4 linked regions of the Homo sapiens genome follow. The protein of the gene in region 1 purifies or fractionates together with the protein of each later gene. This does not show direct contact. Each region holds a gene or a part of one and is shown in the gene's direction. Other genes may lie near its edges.

Evidence for each region. Proteins that work in one complex are often made in the same cells at the same time.
Region 2: the proteins of ENG (region 1) and ATG4B purify together in Homo sapiens (affinity purification with mass spectrometry; one large-scale study listed by BioGRID and IntAct). This does not show direct contact.
Region 3: the proteins of ENG (region 1) and QDPR purify together in Homo sapiens (affinity purification with mass spectrometry; one large-scale study listed by BioGRID and IntAct). This does not show direct contact.
Region 4: the proteins of ENG (region 1) and ACVR2A purify together in Homo sapiens (affinity purification with western blotting, with the first as the bait; 2 studies listed by BioGRID). This does not show direct contact.

Annotation. Positions count from the first base shown.
Region 1 is NC_000009.12:127,837,659-127,841,158, reverse strand, and holds part of ENG (endoglin isoform 1 precursor), read left to right. Parts: intron 1-3,500. UniProt on the Homo sapiens protein: Vascular endothelium glycoprotein that plays an important role in the regulation of angiogenesis. Required for normal structure and integrity of adult vasculature. Regulates the migration of vascular endothelial cells.
Region 2 is NC_000002.12:241,640,507-241,644,192, forward strand, and holds part of ATG4B (cysteine protease ATG4B), read left to right. Parts: intron 1-3,686. UniProt on the Homo sapiens protein: Cysteine protease that plays a key role in autophagy by mediating both proteolytic activation and delipidation of ATG8 family proteins. Required for canonical autophagy (macroautophagy), non-canonical autophagy as well as for mitophagy.
Region 3 is NC_000004.12:17,502,091-17,505,776, reverse strand, and holds part of QDPR (dihydropteridine reductase), read left to right. Parts: intron 1-1,301; coding exon 1,302-1,398; intron 1,399-3,686. UniProt on the Homo sapiens protein: Catalyzes the conversion of quinonoid dihydrobiopterin into tetrahydrobiopterin.
Region 4 is NC_000002.12:147,847,843-147,851,528, forward strand, and holds part of ACVR2A (activin receptor type-2A isoform 1 precursor), read left to right. Parts: intron 1-3,686. UniProt on the Homo sapiens protein: On ligand binding, forms a receptor complex consisting of two type II and two type I transmembrane serine/threonine kinases.

The DNA of each region.
Region 1 (3,500 bases):
TGGGCCTGGAGGAAGAAACATCATGGATGTCCAGGAGCTCACCAAGGAAGGAGGTGGTGTGGAAGAGCACAGAATAGAGTGAATGCGGAGGCAGAGGGAACAGGCTCTGGGGTCATCAGGTGGCAGGAGCTAGAGGTTCCCCAGCAGGACAGGGGAGATGGCAAAGGCCTGTCGCCATATTAAGAAGTTTGATCTTTATCCCGTGGGCAATAACAGTTCTTGGAGGGATTTTAGGGGCATGGCAGGGGGCCACTGTAACTCATGCCATATTCCAAGGATCCTTGAGTTCATGACAACAAAATCTCCCTGTTAGCCTCTGCCTCTTCTAGAGAACTCGCTCCAGGGAGCTTCCAACTTTTAATTCAAGGAGCCAGGCTGCAGGCTCCAGGGCTTTGAGGGATGTTCATTTGAGGAGGTGGTAGAGACATCTGGGGTCCAGGAAACCCAGGGTTCAGTCCTGGATCTGTCCCTGGCCAGCACCTCGCATAGCATCTGGTGTGCAGAGGGTGGTCCTTCTCCCCACTTGCTGGTAGACACACCTTTCTCGGACTCAGGAGCTCACCTGAGAACACAGAGTAGCAGAACCTGGCCCAGGGGCCTGGCTTACACCAAATCACTCTGTTTGTTTGTTTTTTGTTGTTTTTGTTTGTTTGTTTTTTGCCTCAGACTCCTGTAGCTGGGATTACAGGCGTCTGCCACCATGCCCAGCTAATTTTTGTATTTTTAGTAGAGACAGGGTTTCACCATGTTGGAGAGGCTAGTTTTGAACTCCTGACCTCAAATAATCCGCCCACCTCGGCCTCCCAAAGTGCTGGGATTACAGGCATGAGCCACTGCGTCTGGCCCCAAGTAACTCTTGAACGTGTGAGTGAATGCACGCATGCGTGCACAAATGTGTGCGCCGCTGTATGACCTTGATGCAGGGGTTGAGAACACAGGTTCTGGAGCCAGGCAGCCCTCCAGCTGAACTGTGGCTCCGCCTCTGAGAGCCACATCGCCTTGGGCCACCTCCGAGCTTTGATTTTCCCACGGGAAACCTGGACCCATTAGCAGCACCTACCTCACAGGTGTGTTGTAAGAATCCAGCAGGACGGTGCAAGCAAAACACCAAGCGCAGGACCTGCCTGGAGTGACGGCTCAGCGTATGGTGGCTACGGTTATTGTTATTATTATTTCTCTCTGGGTTCCATTTCTCCTCTGTGAACATCCCCATTTTGCCAGGGTTGTTACCGTTTACAGAATGTCTTCGTATCAGTTGAATAATTTGAACCTCAATGGTTATTGCTACAAGATCAATGGGGCAGGTCAGGCGCAGTGGCTCACACCTGTAATCCCAGCACTTTGCGAGGCTGAGGCAGGCAGATCACTTGAGGTCAGGAGTTCGAGACTAGCCTGGCCAACATGGCGAAACCGCATCTCTACTAAAAATACAAAAATTAGCCAGGCGTGGTGGCAGGTGCCTGTAATCCCAGCTATTAGAGAGGCTGAGGCAAGAGAATCGTTTGAACCCGGGAGGTGGAGATTGCAGTGAGCCGAGTTCGCACCACTGCACTCCAGCCTGAGCGACAGAGCAAGACCCTGTCTCAAAAACAAAACAACAACAAAAAAAAGATTAATGGGGCAGGGCTGTGAATTCATTTTCAGCAGGGCAAGCTGAGGTCCAGCCTCATGGAGCTGGGCCTTCCTCCTCCTGCTGCTTCTTGTCTCCCTGCTCTGAGGGTTGAGCCCATGATGCTGCCAGCCCCTACTGCTGTGACCACTGAGGACCCTGTGGTTTCCCTGGGAGGCACCTTCCTCCCCAGGCATCCCCTAAGAGTGGGGTCTAGAGCTCATAGTCCCCATTGCGCAGCCCTCACCAGGTGCCACTCTGTGCCCAGCCTGTGTTGATGATGCAGACAGAAGGTAGAGCCAGGGAGGCAGAGGTGGCATCAGCAGCCCTGGTATGAGTGGTGGGATCAGCAAATGGGGCTTCAGGGGGCCGCAGGTGATGGGGTGATGAGCACTGAAGGTAGAGGAGGGAGGGGCGTTAGGGAAAAGGCCCCTGGTGTCTAGCCCAAGAGCAGGGTAGAGGGCATTCCAGGCAGAAGCCAGTGCACAGCAAAGGCCTAGCGGCATGGGGCTGGACGTGGTAGTGGGGGTGGTGGCTTTTAGCAGCCAGCCGGATCCCTCCTGACCTATGGCCGGCTTCTTCGATCTCTGGCACAGAGAAGTGGCTTTCCCGTCCATCCCTCAGAATCCTCAGATTTCCTGTGGGTGGGTGGTAGATGGGCGGTGGCAGCCGAGAGCCTTGGGGAAGTGCCGCTCAGTGCGTGTGCTGGGCAGGTCTGCAGACAGCCCCGCTGGGCAGGGGCTGGATCTCGCTGGGTCCCTGAAGGGCAGGCCGGAGCCTGGATTCCGGGAGGGGGCCCAGGGTCACATCCTGACCCTCGGAGACAGGAAACCAGCCTGGTGTCTCAGCAATTCCCGTCAGGCTGACTGGGCCGATCTGCTATCCTCCTAACAAATGCACAGGCTGCCAGGCCAGGGCAGAGCTGGGTCAGCACTGATTCACCCACTCCTGGGCAAACTTGGGGCAGCTGAGACCCCACCCACCCCTGAACAGACACAGCCTGTCAGGCCCCAGCACTGACTCACTCTTGACCAGAGGGGCAGGCAACACCACTCAGGCAGAGAGAGAGAGCCGGGAGGGACCTTAGCTCCCCCAGACTGTCCTGGGAGGCAGTGGGAGGCCATGGAAGGCAGTACAGCCCTCAGACTTGGGCAAAGGGGACCCCTGCCTGGGCTTGGGGGAAGCAGTCTCCCTCTGGCCCTCTGCCAATGGCAGCCCTCTCCCAGGGTGGGGACTCTGTGGGGCCAAAGGGATGTACCCCCCTGAAACCTGCACCCCTCCCTTCTAGATGATGCTCTGGGTACCCAGGACCCCAAAATCCCAAATGGCTCTGAGCCTCCTCTCAGGGCTGCAGGGATCTTTCCTGTTCCATCCTCCAGGGGAGCACTGCATGGCTATGTGAGCTCCCCCAGACCTGAAGGATGGTTGAGTTGGCTACTTGGGGAGGCAGGCATGGTGGAGTTTGGGTATCCGGGCTGAGCTGTCCACATGTGGACACATGAGCACCCTTGCTGGCTGTCAGAACCACAGTGATGAGAAGGAGAAAGCACTGGGGCCAGAGGCTGCCATTTGTATTCTTGTCTCAGGCCTTGCAAATATTAGAGGCAGGCTTGCTGAAGGGGCAGGATTGGGGGTTGGGGAGGGTCAGACAGGCTGAGCAGGGATTGTGCCTGCCCTCTTACTGCTGAATCTTTGGTGTTAAGCTCGAAGTCAGCCCAGGAATCAATATCTGTTGGATGGATGGATGGATGGATGGATGGATGGATGGATGGATGCATTCATGCATGGATGAGAGGATGGATGGATAAGGGCGGGAGGGAGAGAGAATAAAAGAAAGGAAGGAAAAACTGTACATTCTTATAAGCATTTGGTGATTGGCTATTCCCAAGTG
Region 2 (3,686 bases), on another chromosome or scaffold:
TATGTGTTAGGCATTGTTCTAGACACTAGGACTAGAGAAGTAACAACATAGATGAAAACCATTGCCCTGGGGTAGCTAACGTTCTAGACATGAGACCAGCATTAGCAGCGAAGTGCGTGGCTCCTGGGGGATGGTGATTTGGGCCAAGGATGAGGAGGATTGGAATTGTAGCCAGGATGGCCAGGAAGGGTCTCACTCTGAAGGTTTAAGTTTTGACGAAGACTTAAAGCAGTGTAGGAGGAAGGGCAGGTAGCAAGAGCCTGGTGTGGCTCAGGTGCAGCGGGTGGCGGTGGGAGAAGCAGGAGCTGAGGATAGAAAGGTGACTTAGGCTCAGTGTAGTGGGGCCTTGCCAGCTCATAGTGAGGACTCGGTGTTTATTCTGAACAGGATGGCAGCTCATAGTGAGGACTCAGTGTTTATTCTGAACAGGATGGCAGCCGTTTGGAAGGTTTCATTCTAGAGGAGGAGTCACATGATAGACTGTGTTCAACAGGCTTGCTCTGGCATCTCTTTTGAGAATGTACTGCAGAGGGGCAAGGGCAGAGGCAGCGAGACCAGCTAAGAGACTGTTGAACAAGCCAGCAAGGAGATGCCAGTGGATTAGCTCAGGGTGGGTAAGAGGTTGACTTCTGCATGTGTTTTGGAGGTTGAGACAATAGAATTTGTTTGTAGATTGGAAGTTGGGAGAGGGATGGGTAGAGAGGGAGGAGTTAAAGATGGCCCCATAGTGTATGGCCTGAGCTAAGCAACTCAGATGGAGGGGGGCGGGCGTGGTGGCTCACGCCTGTAATCCCAGCACTTTGAGAGGCCGAGGTGGGCGGATCACAAGGTCAGGAGATCGAGACCATCCTGGCTAACACGGTGAAACCCCGTCGCTACTAAAAATACAAAAAATTAGCCGGGCATAGTGGCGGGCGCCTGTGATCCCAGCTACGCAGGAGGCTGAGGCAGGAGAATGGCGTGAACCCGGGAGGCGGAGCTTGCAGTGAGCCAAGACTGCGCCACTGCACTCCAGCCTGGGCGACAGAGCGAGACTCTGTCTCAAAAAAAAAAAAAAAAAGAAACTCAGATGGGGAAGACTTGGGGAGGTCCTGTCTGGTGGGAAGCTTTCTGTTGCGAGTTTGGATTTATGTGTGTTGAATGTGAGGTGGATGTTAGACATCCTTGTAGAGCAGTGTCCAGTGGGCTTTTGGGTCTACAGGTTTGGAGCTAAAAGAATAAGCCTGGGCTGGAGATAGACTGGAGGTCACATCAGATGAGGTCACCCAGGGTGTGAATGTGGGTGGGAAAGAAAAGAGGCCAAAGGCCTCTGCGGGTGTGGAGAGGTCCAGGAGGTGGCAGGCAGACCACAGTGTGGCTGTGTTCTCCACCAGTCCCTAGCACTGTCCCTAAAAGCATGCTCCCCATTCAGACGACTGGCAGGTGCCAGCACTTAAATAGCCACACTGCCCATTCCTTGAGGACAGAGCTGGTGTCTTGTGCTTGCATTTCTAGTGCATCACTTGTGTCTGGCATGTGGTTGGTAATAAAAAAAAAACAGAACTTGAATTAATAATAACCTACACATTCCCCTACTATCAAAGCTTTCAGTTTGTAGAGTTTAACATAAATCCAGTATGTTAGCATAACATGTAATGAATGCAGAGGCTGCTGGGGAGTGGTTTTTTTTTTTTTCTTGAGATGGAGTCTTGCTCTGTTTCCCAGGCTGGAGTGCGGTGGGCGCGATCTAGGGGAGTGGGTTTTAATGTGCGCAATCTGCCCAGTGTGTGCACTGAAACAGTGTTTTCTAGCTTTCTGATGTAGCTAAATTTGGAGTTCCTTTCTCTCTTTCTCTGTTTTCATTCAGGACTGAACTACTAGCATTCTCATGTAAACTCTTGGAGATTTAAAAAAAAGTAGTAATCATATGCAAACTGTTATCTTAAACCTAAGAGCTTTCTAAAGGAAAAGAAGAACCTTTGTTGAATTTATAAAATATAAATCTTTTGGAAAATAACTTCTAAGTGTTTTAGGAAGGTTTCTTCGAAATGAAGTGGTTTACAGTAAGCTCTTAAATTTACTCGTTTTTTTTTGTAGTCCTCTCTGGTTGAATGAAGTGTAATTGGTACTAAATGGAGAGAAGTTGGTTAAATTCATTGAGTACAATTCCCTACATTTCTGCCTGTCAGATTAGTAGTACTAAGTCACATGTTTTTTCTGATGGAATTACTATATTATTAAAATGCCATCTGCCCTCTTCTGCTTGTGATCGCAGAAGTCCCAGGGAAGAGGGCGTGGAAAATCAAGTGTCTGGGATCCAGCCGACCAAATGGGAGAACTGCTTCTAAGGGGGACTCTTTCTTAAGGTGTACAGCACCTCTCCGTCCTTTTTTTTTTTTTTTTTTTTTTTTTTAAGACGGAGTCTCACTGTCGCCCAGACTGGCTGGAGTGCAGTGGCTCTATCTCAGCTCACTGCAGCCTTCGCCTCCTGGGTTCAAGAGATTCTCCTGCCTCAGCCTCCCGAGTAGCTGGGATTACAGGTGTGCACCACCATGCCTGGCTAACTTTTTTATATTTTTAGTAGAGATGGGGTTTCACCATGTTGGCCAGGCTGTTCTCGAACTTCTGACCTCAAGTGATCTGCCCGCCTCGGCCTCCCAAAGTGCTGGGATTACAGGTGAACCACCACACCCAACCTACTTCTTCATCTTGTTCCTCCTGCGTGTCATCTTTTTTTGAGGCAGGGTCTCACTTCATCGCTCAGACTGGAGTATGGTGTTGCGGCCTCAGCTCATTGCAGCCTTGACCTCCTGGGCTCAAGTGATCTTCTTGCCTCACATTCCTCAGTAGCTAAGACTACAGATGTCCACGCCTAGCTATTTTTTTTTTTTTTTTTTTTTTAAGAGAGACAGGGTCTCCCTGTATTGCCCAGGCTGGTCTCAAACTCCTGGGCTCAAGTGATCCTCCCATCTTGGCTTCTTAAAGTGCTGGGATTACAGGCATGAGCCACGGCACCTGGCCTTACATGTCATCTTATTTCAAATTAATATCATTACCTGGAAGTCTAGAGATGGGTCTATATATTTATTTATGTATATATGTACATATATATATAAACATATATATACGTATATATACACATAAATATATACACATATATGTATAAATATATATATACGTGTGTGTGTGTGTGTGTATGTATATATTTTCCCCCCCCCCCGTCGTCCAGGCTGGAGTGCAGTGGCGTGATCTCGGCTCACTGCAACGGGGTTTTGCCATGTTGGCCAGGCTGGTCTTGAACCCTTGACCTCAGGTGATCCACCCACCTTGGCCTCCTAAAGTGCTGGGATTACAGGTGTGAGCCACTGCACCCGGCGAGTGGATATTTTTTCCGAAGTTTGACTCCTTTTCTATCAGGAGCTACATGAATTACCTTATAAATCACATGATGTGGCACGGGAAGATGATGAAATTATGACAGGGGCTATGAAATAAGACAAGGGAACCTCTCCATGGCGAATTGCTGAGGCAGCTGGTGTCAGGCCTAAGTGGATCTCATACATCTGAGAGTCAGTGAAGGAACAAGTGTGGTGGCTCACACTTGTAGTCCCAGCACTTTGGGAGGCTGAGGTGGGTGGATCACTGGAGCCCAGGAGTTTGAGACCAGCCTGCTTAACATAGGGAAACCCCACCTCTACAAAAAATAC
Region 3 (3,686 bases), on another chromosome or scaffold:
AAACTGGGGAAAGAGGTAATCAACTGAAATGTTCCTACTGGGAGAGACACAGGGTGTTGATTTAAGTCTTTTTTAAAAAAAACTAAATGTAGAGATGAGGTCTTGTTATGTTGCCCGGGCTGGTCTTGAACTCCTGGGCTCAAGTGATCCTTCTGCCTCTGCCTCCCAAAGTGCTGGGACTACTGGCATGAGCCACTGTGCCCAGCCTGATTTAAATCTTAAGAAGATTGGGCCAGGCGTGGTAGCTCAGTCCTGTTGTCCCAGCACTCTGAGAGGCCGAGGCAGGCGAATCACCTGAGGTCAGGAGTTCGAGACAAGCCTGGCCAACATGGCGAAACCCCATCTCTACTAAAAATACAAAAATTAGCTAGGTGTGGTGGCAGGCGCCTGTAATCCCGGCTACTCAGGAAGCTGAGGCAGGAGATTCGCTTGAACCGGGGAGGTGGAGGTTGCAGTGAGCCGAGATGGCGCCATCGCACTCCAGCCTGGGAGACAAGCGAAACTCCATCTCAAAAAAAAAAAAAAAAAAAAAAGAAATCTTAAGAAGATTGATCTTAATGAAGCAATTGGGATTTGTCATCTCAGCCATTCCAGAGAAATACGGAAGAGTCGTGGTGGATGGCCAGAATTGCCTGTCCTGACAGACTGTTCTTTTCATAAATTATAACAAGAGGGCATACATATATTTTCAATGCTTTAAAATCTCAAACAAACAGAAGCAGAGAGATCATTAAAGTGAACCCCCATGTACTTAATATTACCAACATATTGCTATTGACTGTATTTTTTCTTGGCTCATGATTTTTCTTACAATTTTTCGTTGGCATTTTTTTCAGAGTTGCAGTTAAAGGGATTTTTGGATTGGGGTGGGGAAAACAGGGTTGATCTTCTTTTTGGATTATAATTCTGTGATTTGTGAAGAGAGTCTGGAAAGAAATACACCAGGATGTTAACTATGTGCAGGCAGTGAAGCTCTAGGTGCTTTTTTCTTTTTTTTTTAACCTTTCCCTACTTTTATTTATTAATTGTTGTATTTCAAGGGATGCTCATGTCTCTACCTTTCAGAATGTATACACAGAGACTCTAGATTGTTTTTTAAAAATCACACTGAAGTGTACTTGGGCTTCAATGTCTAAAATGCTCATCAGAGCTTAGTCTTCCGTCTAATTCTCAAAGCATTAATTGCCAGGTACTGTAAACTGGCTTAAAAAGAAGAGAAAAAGAAACTGAGTATCCGTAAAGATGCTAGCCTGTGTTGGCTTACCTTACAGTTTATACATTTTTTTGTTCTTGTGTTGAAGGTGACTGCTGAGGTTGGAAAGCTCTTGGGTGAAGAGAAGGTGGATGCAATTCTTTGCGTTGCTGGAGGATGGGCCGGGGGCAATGCCAAATCCAAGTGTGAGTCCTTTCCTGAGTCACTCATTTGTTCTGCTCTGCTCTTTTTCCAGCTGACAAGGATTGGGTTTGCACTAGGTGACAGGCCAGCTGTTTTTTTGTGTATATCCCGGAATCTTTACAGTTGCTCGGGGAGAGAGTGATTAATGCTCTTAATCCATTTTACGGATAAAGAAGAAGCTTCCCCTGGAGGACGTGAGGGGACGGGGGGCATTGAGTTTGAGTTTAAAGTAGAGGCAGAATGAAATCAGCATGGCCTGTGCCCCAGGCCATGTGCTATTCAGGCATTGGAGGATGTGTAGGAAGTGCAGAGATCATTTAGAAAGTCAGAAGAAGTCAAACTTGAGATTTTACTAAAGCTGATTCCTTTTTTCATCTTTTCTTTTCCCTTCCCTTCCCTCCCCTCCCCTCTACTCCCCTACCCTTTTTCTTAAGACAGAGTCTTGCTCTGTCACCAGGCTGGAGTGCAATGGTGTAATCTCGGCTCACTGCAACCTCTGCCTCCCAGGTTCAAGCGATTCTCCTGCCTCAGCCTCCCGAGTAGCTGATATTACAGGTGCCCACCACCAAGCCCAGCTAATTTTTTGTATTTTTAGTAGAGACGGGGTTTCACCATGTTGCCCAGGCTGGTCTTGAACTCCTGACCTCAGGTGATCCACCCCCTTCAGCCTCCCAAAGTGCTGGGGTTACGGGCGTGAGCCAGTGCGCCTGGCCCATTTTTCAACTTTTCATTATGAACATTTCTAAGCATACCAGAAAAGTTGAAAGAACAGTTCAATGAACACCCTTATATGCTCCATCTAGATTCAGTAACTGTTAACATTTGCTGTACTTGAGTTGAGCTTGTTTTCTTGTGCCTGTGTACTTTGTGCATTGTTTTTTGTTAACTGTTTGAAAATAAGTTTACACCTCACTATATTTCCGCGTGTTTCTCCAAAGAATAAGCCCGTCCTACATTATTATGGTACCATTGTACCTAAGAAAGTTAACAGTGATTATCTAAGATTAATGATATTGAGCCCATATTCAAATTTCCCCAGTTTATTCCATGTCTATTATAGTTCTTTTTCCCTAAACATATTCCACTCAAGGTTTATGTACTGCATTATGTTGTTTTTAGTCTCTTAATCTAGAAAATCTAGAATTTTTAAAAAAATCCCCTGTGATAAGACTTTTTGTCAAGTCCTTGGGAGTTTTCATATAGCATGTCTCACATTCTGAACTTGTCTGAACTTTTCTTTAAGGGGTTGTTTGACTTGTTCCTCTATCCTTGGTATTCCCCGTGAACTGGAATTTGGGTCTAGAGACTCAGTTAGATTTAGCATAAACATTCTTGTGGTGCGAATTCTTCCTGAGTGATGGTGTGTACCTTATATGACATCACCTGGGAAGCTCAGCATGGCAGCTTGCCCTACCCTTAGGGATGCCAAATTTGATGCTTGGTTGAGATGGCAACTGCCAGACTTCCATTATAAAGGTACTTTTTTTCTGTTTGCAGTAAGTCAGTCATCTGTGGGATGTGTGGTATTGTGGTATTGTGTGTGAATGTCCTGTTTCCCAAGTATTATACTTTTCACCCAGTGGTTTTAGTCCTTCGTTGATAATCTCTGCCTGAAGCACTTATTCAGGGGTTGGAAAATGGTAGTTTTCTAATTCTGTCATCCCTTCTACATTTATTAGCCAAAGCCATTTAAAAAGACGTTGACATTCTGTGACCCACATGTCAATGTGAGAGTGGTGCTTTGTGAGGTGATCAGGTTAGCAAAACAGCTTGATAACCTTTTTGTATGTTTTGGGAGCAAGAAATGATAAATGTGGATCCATCAGGTTTTTTTCCTAGTCTTTTTTAGTGGGGAAATGCAATTTCTTGTTTATCACCTACCAACCCCTCCTATATCAGGAGGACATCCTTTTTTGATCACCAGGTACCACATGCCCTTCGAGTTGCCCAGTTGGTGGTGTGACATATGTTACCATTTGTTCTTCCTTATGTCTCTGGCAAGGCCGGGGAGTTAAAACAAGTGTAAAATGGTTGTTATTTTAGCTTTCTTTTGAAGAGTCTTTAAAGCTAACATTAAACTTTCAGACATAAAATATGTAGCTCAGTAAAAGCTCTCTTTATAGCTGTACAGTAATAGGCCCTTGGATTTTTATCACAGAGAAAACCTGACGTAGACATATAGGTTCTTATTACAAATCTGATACCATTCATAAAATAAAACAATCTTTGAATTAAAGCCAGTCCAGCAAATCAGTAAACTCCAGGTTTATTTTGTAAAATTTATTGGCCA
Region 4 (3,686 bases), on another chromosome or scaffold:
GTGTCTTTCCCCACAGTTTGTTGAAGTATGAGAATGACTTTAATACTTGCTTTAGTACTTAGATTTATCCTATCTAGAGTTATGCAGCTATTGTGGTATTTGAGTTGCATAGAAGTAAGTTGAGAATTCCTTTGGATTTTGTGGGAGCTGGAGCAGTATGGTCAATGTATTTGATGAAAGAGGAAATGGAAATATGGTAATTATGTTTTCTTCAGTTCAGCTAGGCAGTACTGTGTATGTGTGAATGTATGTGTGGTTGGAGGGGGAGTTAGCATTACAGAGAATCTTTTGGGATTCTTTTGAACTTTGATTAACAAGTGATGGATGATAAATACTTTGTTTTCTAAAAGGCAGAATCTCTTATAAATGGTGTCTGTGGTCAAATTCAAATATAATACATTGAAACATGGAGACTAGAAACAAAATGAAACAAAATTCTCCCTCCATTCATTTTCTATTTTTTTTTCCTGTTTATGATCTAAGCCAACAGTTCTCAAGCTGGGGTGAGTCCCCCTCCCTACTTCCCCAGATCCCCATCCATGGGACATTTGGAGACATTTTTGGTTGTCACAACAGGGGACGGGGTGTGCTACTGGCATCTAGTTGGGTAGAGGGCAGGGATGCTTCTAATCGTCCTAAAATACATGGTACAGCCTTCCACAACAAAGAGTTAGCTGGCTCAATATGTCAGTAGTGTAGAGGTCAAAAAACCCTGTTCTAAGAAAACCAAATACCACATGTTCCTATAAGTAGGAGCAAAATGATGAGAAAACATGAAAACAAAGAACAGAACAGCAGACACTGGGGTCTACTCAAGGATGGAGGGTGGGAGGAGGTAGATGAGCAGAAAAGATAACTATTGGGTACTGGACTTAATACCTGGGTAATGAAGTAATCTGCACAGCAAACCCCATTATACGAGTTTACCCATGTAACAGACCTTCACATGTACCCCCAAACCTAAAATACAAATTAAAAAAAAAGGAAAAACTCAGTTCTAAACTCTTAAATTTTAAAAGCAGTAGTTTATTAGTAAAAGGGCTCTGCTCTCTTCCCCCTAAAGTTAGTAATCTAAATTTTACAAGTACATGGTATTGATGATCTCCAGGTAACGTTGTATTGAAAGATTTTTATCTTTTCATTATCTTTTAAATTAGAATATGATTAAATTAGAGAAACAGACTATAGATACGCACATTCTTTCATCCTTGATGAAATGCTTGAGAATTCACCAGTATAGTATAATATTTTATACTATAATAAAATATTCCAATGACTTATGGATAAACTCTCCTATCACCGATTTTGATAGAGTGCTCATGAAGACTGCATGTTCCTGGACATAATGAATGATTGGTTAAGGTATCAAGTTTAATTATATTTGCTTTAGATCCAGGATTTTCTTTGCCATGATATGATCTTTAAGGATATTTGCCTTTATTTTTACTGACATCATTGGGCTGCCTTATGGCGGTATTCGTGTGTGTGTGTAACATGTTGCCTGAAATATGTTCACTATTACATGTTCCCTGAATAGTTTCAAGGTAGAAATTCTGTTTTTTTAAAAAAGATATTTCTTTTGTCTAGCTAACTTTAATTTCAAGAAACTTTTAACCTAATCTCTTAATTACATAATTATCTTGAGAATCACTAGCTGGGTTTTGGTTACCGTTAGACTAATTCATGATACAGTAAGTAATATTTTATGATCTATTGCAGATCGTTTCCCTTTTTAAGGCTAAATCTTGACCATAATTAATAAAATGCTTACCTTGTTTTGAACTCTGGTTTTAAGGGAGTTAACCTAGCCAACCAAGATAAGAATTACAGTGAAACTCTTAGCAAATTAAGGAGCATTATACCATAGAGAGGAAAATTCTGAAGTCATTCCCACAAATGGTGTCCAAATGAGCCTCACAGTGTCTTTGTAACACACCTCTCCATACCCTTCTCTCTGATACTGACATTTTCGCCTTTTGGGTCCACCAGACTCACTGTTCTTAAGAGAAGCACAACTAAACCAAATGAGATTTTAGTAATCTCTAAATTGTTTCTTTAGATTCCAAGACTTTATTTTGTTGCATTTTGACTTTTTAAAGTGCTACTATGATTTTCTCATCTTTGATATTTCATGAGTCCAATGATTTAAATTTGTGTTTTCATGGTCTGTTAAGTTGCCAGTTGCCATGTTGTCTCAGATTATAGGTAAGGTTGGCAACATTTGATACTAGGGGTCACTGGTATGCCTTAGCTTTTTGCTCACTGCTCTGTAACTCATTGTTTTTTCCATTCCCTTTCATTATTGTTCCCTTTCCATTTTCCTCCCTTCTTTGTCTACTCCCTTTTCTTCCCCTGACCCTTCTGTACTTCCTTATACTGCTTGCTTGTGGAACCCAGTTGTGGCTTAGCATCATGGGTGACTCCAGAGGGCTTACCCGTAGTTTTAATGAAAACAGATTGAATTTAGAATGCTTGAGAATTGACCAGATAGTCTTTTCCACTGTTTTTTCATTTACTGGTTTCTGGACTACCTCGCACACCCTCTTGGGAATAGTGTTACTCTCTTAGAATCAAATGGCTTGAACTTTAGATTGCTCTTATTCTCTTTTTTAATATTCAGGTTTTCCTTAACTCTTTGCTGCTTCAGAAAAAGTTTCGCTCATCTTATTATTCATTTATCATCTCTGTTTAAGCCAAAATTTGACTAGAACCAAGAGTATATTTATTGCTGCTGATAGGACCACATTAGACTTCCTCTGTGGTAGATTTAATTCTGTTAGATTGTAAAATAGTCATGTCTAGACAGAACATTGATTTCAAATTGACTATTGAACATGAAAATTCCAGGAATAGTGTATAGAGGAAGGAGGAGGAGGAGGAGAAATCAAGAAGGTAAGAAAACTACTGTAGATAGCAAGTGACTTTCTGTCATTCTCCACCTAGATTTCTTGTTAGTCACTTTTGTATACCCAGTGCATCTAGAGGTCAGGCTTTGTTTTAATAAAGGGACTTAAAGGAAATATGTTTTTGTCTCTGAGATTGGATTTTTTGAACTGTTAGAGTGGTGGACCTAAGGGAAAGAATTGGAAACTTCATATGGATAGTGATCAAGAATGTGGTCGTAGAGGTTGGTAGACTTGAGCTGTGGTGTCAGTGCTGCCAGTATCTAGCTTATGTATCATTTTCTGTTACTTGATTATTGTAGCACTTTTCTAGCTAAGATTCACCAGTTCCCTATCACTACTTCCTTTTCTTTCTAGTCCATCTGCATAGCTGCTGGAGTGATCTTATTAAAAAATAAATCTGAATATGTTACCCTTGCTTAAAACCTTTCACTGACTGTGAGTCACCTTTAGCATAGAATCTAAAGTCTTAGAATGTCATAAAAGGTCCTTCATCGTTTGGTTCCTGCCTATTTTTTCTAACCTCTTGGTATTGGTTAAGAGTATAGACTCTGGATATAGACCTAATTGGTTTAAATCTTGGTTTCATAACTTAACCTTGGTCAAGTTACTTCACCTTTGTGTGCCTCAGTTTTCTCATCTACACAATGGGGGGATATTAATAGTGCCTACCTCAGAGAGTGGTTTGAATATTAAATGCTAGTTATTCTGCTGCAGCTTCTCCTCAGCCTGAGTACTATATTCCATCCATACAGACTTGACTTGCAGTTTCTTAAATGTGTA